2 separate regions of the Homo sapiens genome follow, and region 1 is linked to region 2. The links come from fine-mapping of genetic effects on gene expression. A gene starts in region 2. The other region holds a variant in brackets. All regions are shown on one strand. Distances are from middle to middle. Region 1 has its middle 30 kb from the start of TERLR1. Region 2 holds the start of SLC12A7 (solute carrier family 12 member 7).

Region 1 (5,475 bases), 36 kb after region 2:
CGCCATCCTTCTCCAGAACTTCCTTTGCAAAACTGCAGCTCTGCACCCATTAAACTGACTCCCATTCCCCTCCCCCAGCCCCTGGCAGTCCCCGTTCTGCCTCCGTCTCCCAGAATTTGACAACTCCAGGCTCTGCCTGCAACTGTTATTCTGCAGGATTGACCTTTCTGTGTCTGGCTGCCCCATCCCTCCTCATTCCCAAAGGCTCTCCCTGGAACCTGCTCCCAGCAGGAGGGGCCATTCCCTGGTCACCCACCTTCTTGAGGCTCCTCTGGGAGAGTCTCCAGGTCTGTGATGAGACCTCAGGGACCTGCCAGCAGGTGGGCTTTTGGAGTGGAGTTGTGGGAGCCCAGATGCTGGTGACCCCTGGAGGTGACCACCTGGGCCAGTGACCACGGACCTCCAGGCCTGGGTCCCTCTGACCTGGCCGTGGAATGAAGCCTGGGGTGCCTGCATGTGGGTGGGAGCAGTGGTGGCCTGCTGAGAGGTGTTCAAAGCCATCTCTGCAGTGTAAACAAAAAATAAAATTCTAAGGCTCCTCCCCGACCGTCTGGATGGACCCCTCCTCTGGGCCAGGACACCCCAACGTTAACCAGAAAGACTGCTTCAGGCCACGACGGGAAGCGGTGGTCGGCCATGCCTCATGCCGCCCTCCTCCCTTTCGGAATTTAGGAAAAGCCGACCAGCAGTAACATCAACACAGACCTTAAGTCTGGTAAGAAACACCATACAATCTCTTCTCTCTGGAGCCTGCTACCTGGAGGCTTCACCTGCATGATGAAACCTTGGCCTCCACAGCCCCTTACCCTAACCCAGACAATCCTTTCTATTGATAGTAACTCCCAAACAATTGCCAATCAGAACATTTTTAAATCTACCTATGACCTGGAAGCCCCACTTGGAGCTGTCCCGCCTTTCTGGACCTGACCAATGTATATCTTAAATGTCTCATGCCCGCCTGAACTAAGGCCCAGCTGCACCCGCCCACCTCCCGAGGGCCGTGTCACTGCACAGTCACTCTGTGTGGCTCAGAATCAATCTCTTCAAATATTTCACAGACTTTCGCTCTTTTCATCGACAGGCTTATTTCGTTCACACAATGTCCTCAGCCTCCATCCATGTGGCAGTGTGTGTCTGAATTTCCTTTCTTTTGTAAACTAAAAACAAAATCCAAAGTCCCACAGACAAATGAACGGAACACCCCTCTTGGACAAGGGGACCCAGGGCAACAGGAAACACTAAATTCCCACGGTGACAGAAGGGAGGAGGGACTCTCCTCATCACGGCCCACCCCGCCACCCCCCCCGCCCCCGCCTTTAGGAGTTCAGGTGCAGCTGACCCACACTAACTCCAAAATAGTTATCCAAAGACGGCAGAACAGACTCTGTGGCGGTAAGACCCCAAATCCAGCCTGACCCTGGTATAGAGACCCACCGAGAGTCCCTCCGACCCGGAGAGACCCGCCGAGGGTCCCACACCCGGAGAGACCCGCCAGGAGTCCCCACACATTTGAAGGCCCTGCCTGCCCTCTGTCCTCTCGGGGCCGCCTCCTGGAGGCTTCTACGTCACCAGCACCTTGGTCTCCACAGCCCCTCAGCTGAAGCCAAGTGATTCTTTCCACCCACTGCAAGCCTTCACGTCTTCAGCTTAACTCTTTCACCCAAATACTAATCAGAAAACATTTAAATCTCTCTGCTCCCCTTCAAGATGTCCCTCATTTCCCACCGAATCAATGTATACTTTCCATGTACTGATTTATGCCTTTGCCTGTAACTTCTTTATTTAATTAAATTAATTAATTACTTTTTTGAGACAGGGTCTCACTCTGTCACCCAGGCTGAGAGTAGTATCTCAATCACAGCTCATTGTGGCCTTGACCTCCCGGACTGGAGCCTCAGCTTCCCAAGCAGGTGGGACCGTGGGTGTGCACCACCACGCCTGGCTAATTTTTAGAAAATTTTTTGTAGAGACGGGATCTTGCTATGTTGCCCAGGGTGGTCTTGAACTCCTGTAGGGAAACAATTCCCCCACCTCAGCCTCCCAAAGAGCTGGGATTATGCCTCGCCTGGCTTTGCCTGTAACTTCTGTCTCCCTGAAATGTATACAACCAAACTGTAACTGCCTCAGGCACAGGCTCTCAGGCCCTCCTGAAGCTGTTTTCTGGGCCATGGTCACTCACATTGGCTCAGAATAAACCTCTTTAAATATTTTACAGAGTTTGCTTTTTTTTGTTGATACTTTTTTCTTTCTTTCTTTTTTTTTTTTTTTTTTTGAGATGGCGTCTCGCTCTGTCACCCAGGCTGGAGTGCAGTGGTGCGATCTCCACTCACTGCAAGCTCCGCCTCCCAGGTTCACACCATTCTCCTGCCTCAGCCTCCCTACTAGCTGGGACTACAGG[C/T]GCCCACCACCACGCCCGGCTAATTTTTTGTATTTTAGTAGAGACGGGGTTTCACCATGTTAGCCAGGATGGTCTCTATCTCCTGACCTTGTGATCCACCTGCTTTGGCCTCCCAGAGTGCTGGTATTACAGGCGTGAGCCACCGCACCTGGCCTTTGTTGATACTTTTTAAGGCTAAATAATATTCCACTACATGTACTATCAAAATGTTATACAAAATTATAACAAATTTAGCTGTAGATTGAATTGGCCTTTATTCTCGATTCACGAATGGGGCAGCCTCAGTCGAGGAATGAGAGCTCCCCCTGGGCAATGGCCAACAGTGGGTTTTGTAAAGTGGGTACAGGGACACGGAACAGAAGAAAGGCTGACGGTTGACATCGGGTTCCCTCAGGTTCCTTGTTGTAAGGGTTAAAGCAGAGGGACTTCCTTTGTACACTGACCAGGTAGACTGCAGTCTCCTGTTTTCAGAAAAAACTGGTCAGCTTTGGGATCTATCTGCTTCCTTAAAGTTTCAGTTTGATGATGCCATTTAGCCTTCAGGCCAAACCAAAATGGAGTGATGTATTGGGGCCTGGTGTAGGAGCTCCATTCAAAACAACAGCTGCCCATAATTTTTGTTTAAAAGTACATGTCACATTTTATGAATCCGTTCATCCACCCACGGACAACTGGGTTGCTTCCACCTGTGTCTACCGTGAATGATGCTCCCAGGAACATGGATGTGCAAATGTCTCTCTGAGCCCCTACACCCAGAAGGGGGACTGTGGATCCTACGATGCCGCACCCAGAAGGGGGACTGTGGATCCTATGATGCTACCGTGTGAGCTTCTGACATCTGTTTTCCAGCCATGCCACTTTACATTCCCACAAGCAGCGCACAAGGGTCCCCACTTGTAACATCCTCACCAACACGGTATTGTCCATTCTAAAAATAAGAGCCTGGCCAGGCGCGGCGGCTCACACCTGTAATCCCAGCACTTTGGGAGGCCAAGGTGGGCAGATCACTTGAGGTCAGGAGTTCGAGACCAGCCTGGCCAACATGGCGAAACCGCATCTCTACTAAAAATATAAAAATTAGCCAGGCGTGGTGGCAGGTGCCTGTAATCCCAGCTACTCTGGAGGCTGAGGCAAGATAATCACTTGAACCCGGGAGGTGGAGGTTGTAGTGAGCCGAGATGGTGCCACTGCACTGCGGCCTGGGCAACAGAGAAAAACTCCCTCTCAAAAACAAATAAATTAAAAAAAATAAAAATAAGAGCCATTCAAATAGTTGTGAAGTGGTGTCTTCACAATTATTAGTGTTGATTTGCATTTCTCTAGTGATTAGGGATGTGAAGCATCTCTCCATGTGCTTATTATCATTTGTGTATCTTTTTGAAGAAATGGCTATTCAAGCCGGGTGCGGTGGTTCACATCTGTTATCCCAGCACTTTGGGAGGCCAAGGTGGGCGGATCACCTGATGTCAGGAGTTTGAGACCAGCCTGGCCAACATGGTGAAACTCCGTCTCTACTCACAATACAAAAAATTAGCTGGGCATGGTGGTGCACGCCTGCAATTCCAGTTACTCGGGAGGCTGAGGCAGGAGAATCGCTTGAATCTGGGAGGTGGAGGTTGCGGTGAGCTGAGATCGTGCCATTGCACTCCAGCCTGGGCAACGAGAGCGAAACTCCACCTCAAAGAAAAAAACAACAACAATAAAAACAGAGAAATAGCTATTTAAGCCCTTTTCCCATTTTTAAAAGGGTGTATTTGTTTGCTGTTGCTGTTGAGTTGTAGGAGTTCTTGGCATCCTCTGGGTATGAACCCCTCATCAGCTCTATGATTTGCAAATGCTCTCTCCCATCCCGGGAGCTGTTCTTCTACTCTGTGTGTGTCCTCTGATGTGTGTTTGCATTTTTTTTAGTCTGTGCTTGTAGTTTCCTCTGCCCCTCCCCCGACCCCGATAGAGCCATGCAGGAGCCGACATCCATGCACACACACCTGCCCCCTAACCCCATCCCTCATTTTCAGGGCACAGGCCTCGACCAGAGGAACAGAGGAGGCACCTGGGTGGAGCCCTGCACCAAGGCCCAAAGGCCCAGCCCACAGTGAGGACCCCAACTCATGCCACAAGCAGCTGAGCTGCAGGATCTCTTCCGAATATTCAAGTCTTTATTTAAAGAAAATTCTGGTGTATACATGGAGCTGGTGTCTCAAAACCCAGGTCCCCTCCAGTGGAAAAAGAAGCCAAATTAAACACTAAATAGCAAAGAACAGAAAGGATGGACATGCGTTCAAGCATTTTCTTTTAAAGCCAAAATTAAAATCACTGAGTCGAGACTTCTTTAAGAGCAAAGTGACAAAACGCAAGCTTGTCCTGCTCCACAGATAACTAGAGGCAGCTCATGGATGAACACGACGGCCGAGCTCCATGAAATATTTAAGCAAAAAGAAAACAGAGCCTGCCCCGTGGGGCTGGCAGGTTTTCAGACACCAGAACCAGTGGCCTCCGCCTGGGATCTGCACACCACGTTTCTGAGTGGCCCAGGAGGGCACGCAGAAGCAGCCTGGTGGTCTGATTTTCCCAACAAGGAGAGCATGCAGCCAGCTGAGGACATGGGATTTTCCTGAGGCTTTCCCCCATCAGAAGGCAAAGGCTGAGGGGGCAGCCCACTCTCCTGTGGTCCACGGATGGGGAGGGCGGCCTTGGGAGCTGGACGGAGATGGCGGGGCCAGAGCCTCACTGCTGTGCCAGCAGGGTCTGGGCCCATGGGTGGTACCCAAGGATCCTCCTGTTCCAGATCCCCGGGATCCCAGCTCACAAAGCTCAGGCTTGCAAAGGCGCCTTCTACCATGAGCGTTGCTTCCCAGCCAGAGCAGTTTCCAAGGCTCAGGCAACGAACTCTTCACCTTCTCCTTAAGCGGCAAAAACCCAACACGCTCCACAGAGATGCAGACATCCACTCACACACAGAGACACACAAAGAAACCTCAGCCTGGCCTCGGCACACATCTCATTGAAGATGTCAGTGGGCGCCGTTGCTAAGCTGGCGTCTGCAGGGGCCCGGCCTCTGCCAGCCCCAGCACTAGGGG
Region 2 (5,206 bases):
ACCGGGCCCTTTCTGTGGAAGTAGGAAGCGGGTCCAGCACAAAAGCGCCAGGTGCAAGTTCTCTGCCAGTTCGGAGAAATCTCCCAAGTTCAGCTCACACCACAGGGCCACCCTCAAAAGTGTCCAGAAGCCCACACCTGGCCCATGCCCTCCCGTTCTCAATTTCATGAAGGCCAGGGAGCCTCCTGACACGCCCGTAGCAGGACCTGAGTGCGCGGGCAGCGACATGGGCAGCGCTCAGCCAGGGCCACTTCCTGCTGGGCAGACACAGGCCCAGGGCACTGCTCAACAGCCTTGAGAGTAGAAGAGACAAGAAAACGAACAAGCACAAAATTCTCTCTGGCTTAAAAGCAAATGACACTTACAGTCTAAAGACAAAAGTGAACCTGATCAGCCTTGAGAAGGGGCCGGCCAGACAAGAAGAGGCTCCTTCTGAGTGCGTTCCGGGGGCGTTGCTACAAAGCTCACACAGAAAGACCACGCCAGGGCCCACACTCCTTGGTGCTTCCTGCCTCCACGGTGGTGACTGGAGAGAAGGGGCTTGGACTCACGGACCCTGCTTAGTTAGCACTTCACCTGGTGTTGAGCCTGGCGCCCCGCCTGACCACTTCCAAGATCTGGGCTGGCCTCTGTGCAGAGGAAGCTGAGACCACTCTTCGCCCGCCACGGGGACCCTGATGACGCACCCCAGGCCACCAGGCCACTGCCTTCACGGTGGGTCCCCACCCGTGTCTCCGGGTTCCTAAACTGCCTGGAGGGGATGTCTGGCCTTTCCTGCCCGGGATGGTGGGTTAGGAAGGATCTGGGGTCTGGCACCGGACTTGTCCCTGGACAGACCTCACCTTCCTTCCACTGCCAGGGAGCAGGGAGGCTGCCACCCACTGCATGAGACCCGGGCACATGCGGGCACTGCCAGCACGCGGGGTGGGGGCTGGACTGAGTCCGGACACCTTCTCAGAGACTCCGGATGGAAGGGCCTAAGAGCCTCCGGTTTCTAGAGGGGGCTGAGATCCGGGGAGTAACTGGGATTTGGAGCCAGGATGGAGGGAACAGGGCTGGGGGATTCTCTCCCCAGCCCCGTCCCCACCCCCTAGAGAAAGTGAAAGTGCTAGAAACCTCCAGATTCCCGGAACGGGGGACGGGAACACGGAGGACGCGGCCTGAGCAAGGCCCCGGTGGCTGCCCCCTCCCCAGCCAGGGCGCAGTCCTTCCTGTTCCGCCTCTGGGGGGTGGGCGGCTCCTCCAGGGTCAGGCGGGGGCAGGACGGGCCGGCCCGGGCTAGTGTTACCGGACGGCCGCGGCGCAGGGGAAGGGAGAGCGCGGGGGACGCAGGACGCCCCGGCTCCCGAACCGCCCGGGTCTCCACCGCCACCCCTGTCCCACTAGGGACCACCCAGGGGCCCGGGCTCCCTCCGGAGGCGCGCTCCAGCCCCTCCCCGTTTCCATGGCTACCAGCAGCGGCGTCCACACCTCTGCCCCCGGTCCCACCCGAGCTGACCGTACCGGGAGCCCTGGCAGGGCCCCTCGCCCCCTAGCGCTGCCACTAACGTGGGGTGGGGGCCCTCGTGGGGGACCGAGAACAGGCGGTGGGGGCGCGGGAAGGGGCGCCTCCTGTACCCCCGGCCCCGCCGCCCGCCTCCGCTCCCGGATGCCGGGCCCAGACCCGCGCTCGGGGCGCTCGGCCTTTGTCCGGCCAGGTGCGGCCGCGCTCACCCGGGCTGGGGCGCTCGGGCTCGGGGCCCTCGGGGGTGCCCGGAGCCTCCGTCCGCTCGGCAGTCTCGTCCCCGCCGCCGTCGGCGTGAGCCTCCACGGGCACCACGGTGAAGTTGGTGGGCATGGCCGCCTGCAGCCGACAGTCCCCGTCCCGGCCCGGCCCGCGCTGCGCCGCTCCCGCCGACGCCACGGGACTTGGAGGCAGGGGCGGGGTCCGACCGAGCCGCCCCGCCCCGCCCGGGCCACGTGACTTCACCTGCTTGCCCCGCGGCCCCACGAAAAGTTGGCCCGCGGCGACTTCCTGCAGGGACCCCAACCCAGGCTGCGTCTGTCTGACCGCCGCGACCCGGGACGCGGGGCTTTCGCTGCCTGCGCTCCCGACCATCGCAGAGCCCGCGAATCCCCGCTCAGTCTCCTGCACCCCCTCCTGCTCCAGCCCCCTGCCCCTCCTGCTGGAACTCCCCGCCCTCCCCGCCCTCCCCGGCCCCCTCCCCGCCTCCCCTCTTGTCCCCTTCCCCGACCCCCCACTCCTGCTCCAGCCCCCTGCCCCTCCTGCACGCCCTTCTGCTGGAACCCCTCACCCCTCCTGCACCCCCCCACCCTTCCTGCACCCCCTCCTGCTGGGCCCCCCTGCCCCTATGAACCCCCTCCTGCTGGAACCCCTGCCCTTTCTGCACCCCCTCCTGCTGGGCCCCTCCTCCTTCTGCGCCCCCTCCCGCACCCCCTCCTGTTTGCCCCCCATTTCCTGCTCCAGCCCCCTACCCCTCCTTCTTCCCCCTCCTGTTCCCCCCTGCCATCCTCCAGCACCCACCTCCCACACAGTCCGCCCACCCACTCCAGGCTGTCAACACCCGCTCAGACCCTGGGCTCCTAGCCTGGCTCCTGGCTAGCCCAACCTGGCTGCAAAGGCAACTCCAGTGGAAGGAGCCTTGGATAGCCTGGGGGTGGGGTACTCCGGAGCTTGGTCCAGCTCCAGTTTAGGGACCTAACCCAGTAGAGGGAGTCCCCCCCCCCACCCATGACAAATACCACCCACGAAGACCCCAGTCTCCTCCACACCTGCCCCAGGAGTGCCCCGCGGCCCCTGCCCTAGAACCCTCCCTTCCCTCCTTGGGAAATGTTCCAGAAGCTCACAGGGTGATGCAGGGAAGGTGGAGTTCCAGAACCCACCAGGCAGACACCAGGATACCACCGGCCAGCACCTGGCACATTTCTCAACAAATGACTCATGAAAAACGGAACAATCAGATGTCCGTCAATGGGGAATTGGGCTAAAATGCTATGGCACACAGGTGCAATGAGTCAGCCTTTATTCCTAATCACCCACAACTGCTGTACGACAACAAAGCAGAAACACAGGTGGTGTGGGCAAACACGGCCACAGCCTCTTGTCACGTGGAAAATGGGTATGGCCTGGCCATGTTTTAGCCGCTTGCCTGTCTAATCCTAAAAGGCAGCTGGAGGGGAGTGATGGCCTCCGGGCTGTGGGATCACCGGGCTCTGTGGGTTCAAGGAACGCAAGCCCAACCTCTCCAGCCATTTCCAGTAAAGCCAGTCATGCCCTGGGGTGGCCTAGGGTTCTACCCCTTTGCCCCATGGACTCTTCTGGGCAGAAGCTGTAGGCCTGGGACCCTCCTGGAACGTCGCCCATCCAGCACCAGCCCTTGCAGAGGTGGGGGTTCCTCTGGCCTGGGTGTCTGGAGCTGTGCCTGCTCCACACTCTCACCCCACCTCCCACCAAAGGGAGCTCAGGGCTGTGGATGGTGCTAGGTCAGCTGCCTCCCTGGGTCAGTGGGTTGGAAGGTAGGAAACCATCACCTCCCCAGAAGATAAAATAGTTCCCAGGCATCCTTATGAGGAGGGCTGGCTTTGCTAAAAAGATCCAGGGGGTGGGAACAGAAGTGCCCAATGGGGTCAATTATAGGGTTCACACTTAGGGTGCTGGGTAAACCCTCTCCTCAGTCACCCCAGCAGGGGCTTCTGTACATTCAACCCTGGTTGCCACCCAGCGCTATTCCCGAGGGTTGGACAGAGCTCAGGGTGGGCACGAGGCCTTCCCAAGTGATGCCAGCAGGAGCAACAGATGTGCAGGGCTCCCGTCGCACATCCAAGCTCTGCTTCACACCCCAGGACCCCAGGGCCGGCTGCCCGCCATGTGCTGGCTGTGGACCTTCAGAGGAGCTGGTTTGGAGGGTCTGTGGCCAGGGCCAGCTCCCGGACTCAGGACTCATCAGCTTCATTTTACAGAGGAGGAAACTGAGGCCCAGGAGTTTAGGGTCCTGTGGCAGCTCCGAGGGTGGTCTTCTCTGTGATTACAAAATCTTGACTAGGACCAGGGGCCATGGCTGAAGCACCTGGGTGGGTGCCCAGCCCTGCCAGGCAGAAGGCAGGTGGCTTCTCTTGTTTAAATCTTAGATCTTACTTGTGGGAGACCTCGGGTGGGGGGTGAGGTCTGCTGCCTTTTGCATTCTAATCAGGTGAGTCACGACAGGGATCAGCACCCTGTAAGCACCTGCGGGTCAAGACAGAGACCCTTGCCGGAGCCCAGAAGCCGCTGCAGGCCCCTCCCATCCCATCAGTAGCCCATCCCTAGGGGTCTGGTGGCCCCTCCCTTCGCTCTGTGGGTTTCCGTGTCCACGTATATCCTCCCACACGGCAGCCTGGGGTTAAATGTGCGTTGTGTGACTTTCAGTGCTCTCTTCCTACCCACCTCCATCCCTCTGTCCTTTTCTGTACCCGGCACCTGTTGTAGGAAGTGGCCCTCGGACACGTGGAGGTACCCGAGGCCTGGGTTGGAGCTGCATCTTTCGGTGCAGGCCTCTGCGTCTCCTGGAAGTGGGCACCTGGAGCCAGGGGACTGCTGGGATCCGGGTCCAGTCCCCTGGCAAGGCCGGGGGCTCGCAGAGGGAGCCACGCACTGTCTGGTGGTAGCTCCTCCGTCCGCAGTCGTTGGTGCTTGATGTCTGAATCGACAGATTCATGGAGCAAAATGGTGATTTTCCAGTGCGTGGTGGCTTCGTCATGAATTCACTGGAGGGAGAGGCTCATCTTGTCCGTCTGGCCATCTGGATAATGGTGCCCACAGGAAAGGCAGGGCAAGGGTGCCTCTCCCTCATTTGTCAGTTTCCACAACGGTGAATTGGTTCCCGACAATCTCCCAAGTATATTTGTACATCGCTGATGAAACACATTGGTGGGTCTCAGTCGATCACCATTAGTGCCCTTTCCAAGCATCGGTGTCCAGCTTTGCCCAGGGGGCCTCTTCAAATGCAATCTCGCATCCTTATGATGTGAGCCTGGTCATCTGCGATGGCCTCTTGGCCGTGTGCAGGGCACAGCCAGGGGAACCCTGGGATTTAGTGCGAAAGTGTAGCCGATGGTGGTTACATTCTGTGTGTAGATTCTCGAAACAGTCCCTGCTGCCTGCCACCCTGGGGTGGAGTTTCTAATGGATTAGGACGGACACCCAATGCCAGCTTCCAAGCCAGGAGGC

What was found. PIP is the estimated chance that this variant, and not a neighbour inherited with it, causes the effect. A credible set is the group of variants that fine-mapping cannot tell apart.
Region 1: its variant is the best candidate, but not a certain one, in a credible set for the expression of SLC12A7 in nasal epithelium (TOPMed, PIP 0.54).

The regions. Positions count from the first base shown.
Region 1 is chr5:1,145,953-1,151,427 of GRCh38, forward strand. It overlaps a transcript of SLC12A7 not described here. Among named protein-coding and RNA genes, the nearest start is that of TERLR1, 30 kb to the right of the region's middle. The variant C/T (reference allele first, on the strand shown) is at 2,399.
Region 2 is chr5:1,110,155-1,115,360 of GRCh38, forward strand. SLC12A7 (solute carrier family 12 member 7) reads right to left here and starts at 1,909. Exons shown (of 24, transcript NM_006598.3): 1 at 1,714-1,909. The coding sequence starts at 1,837.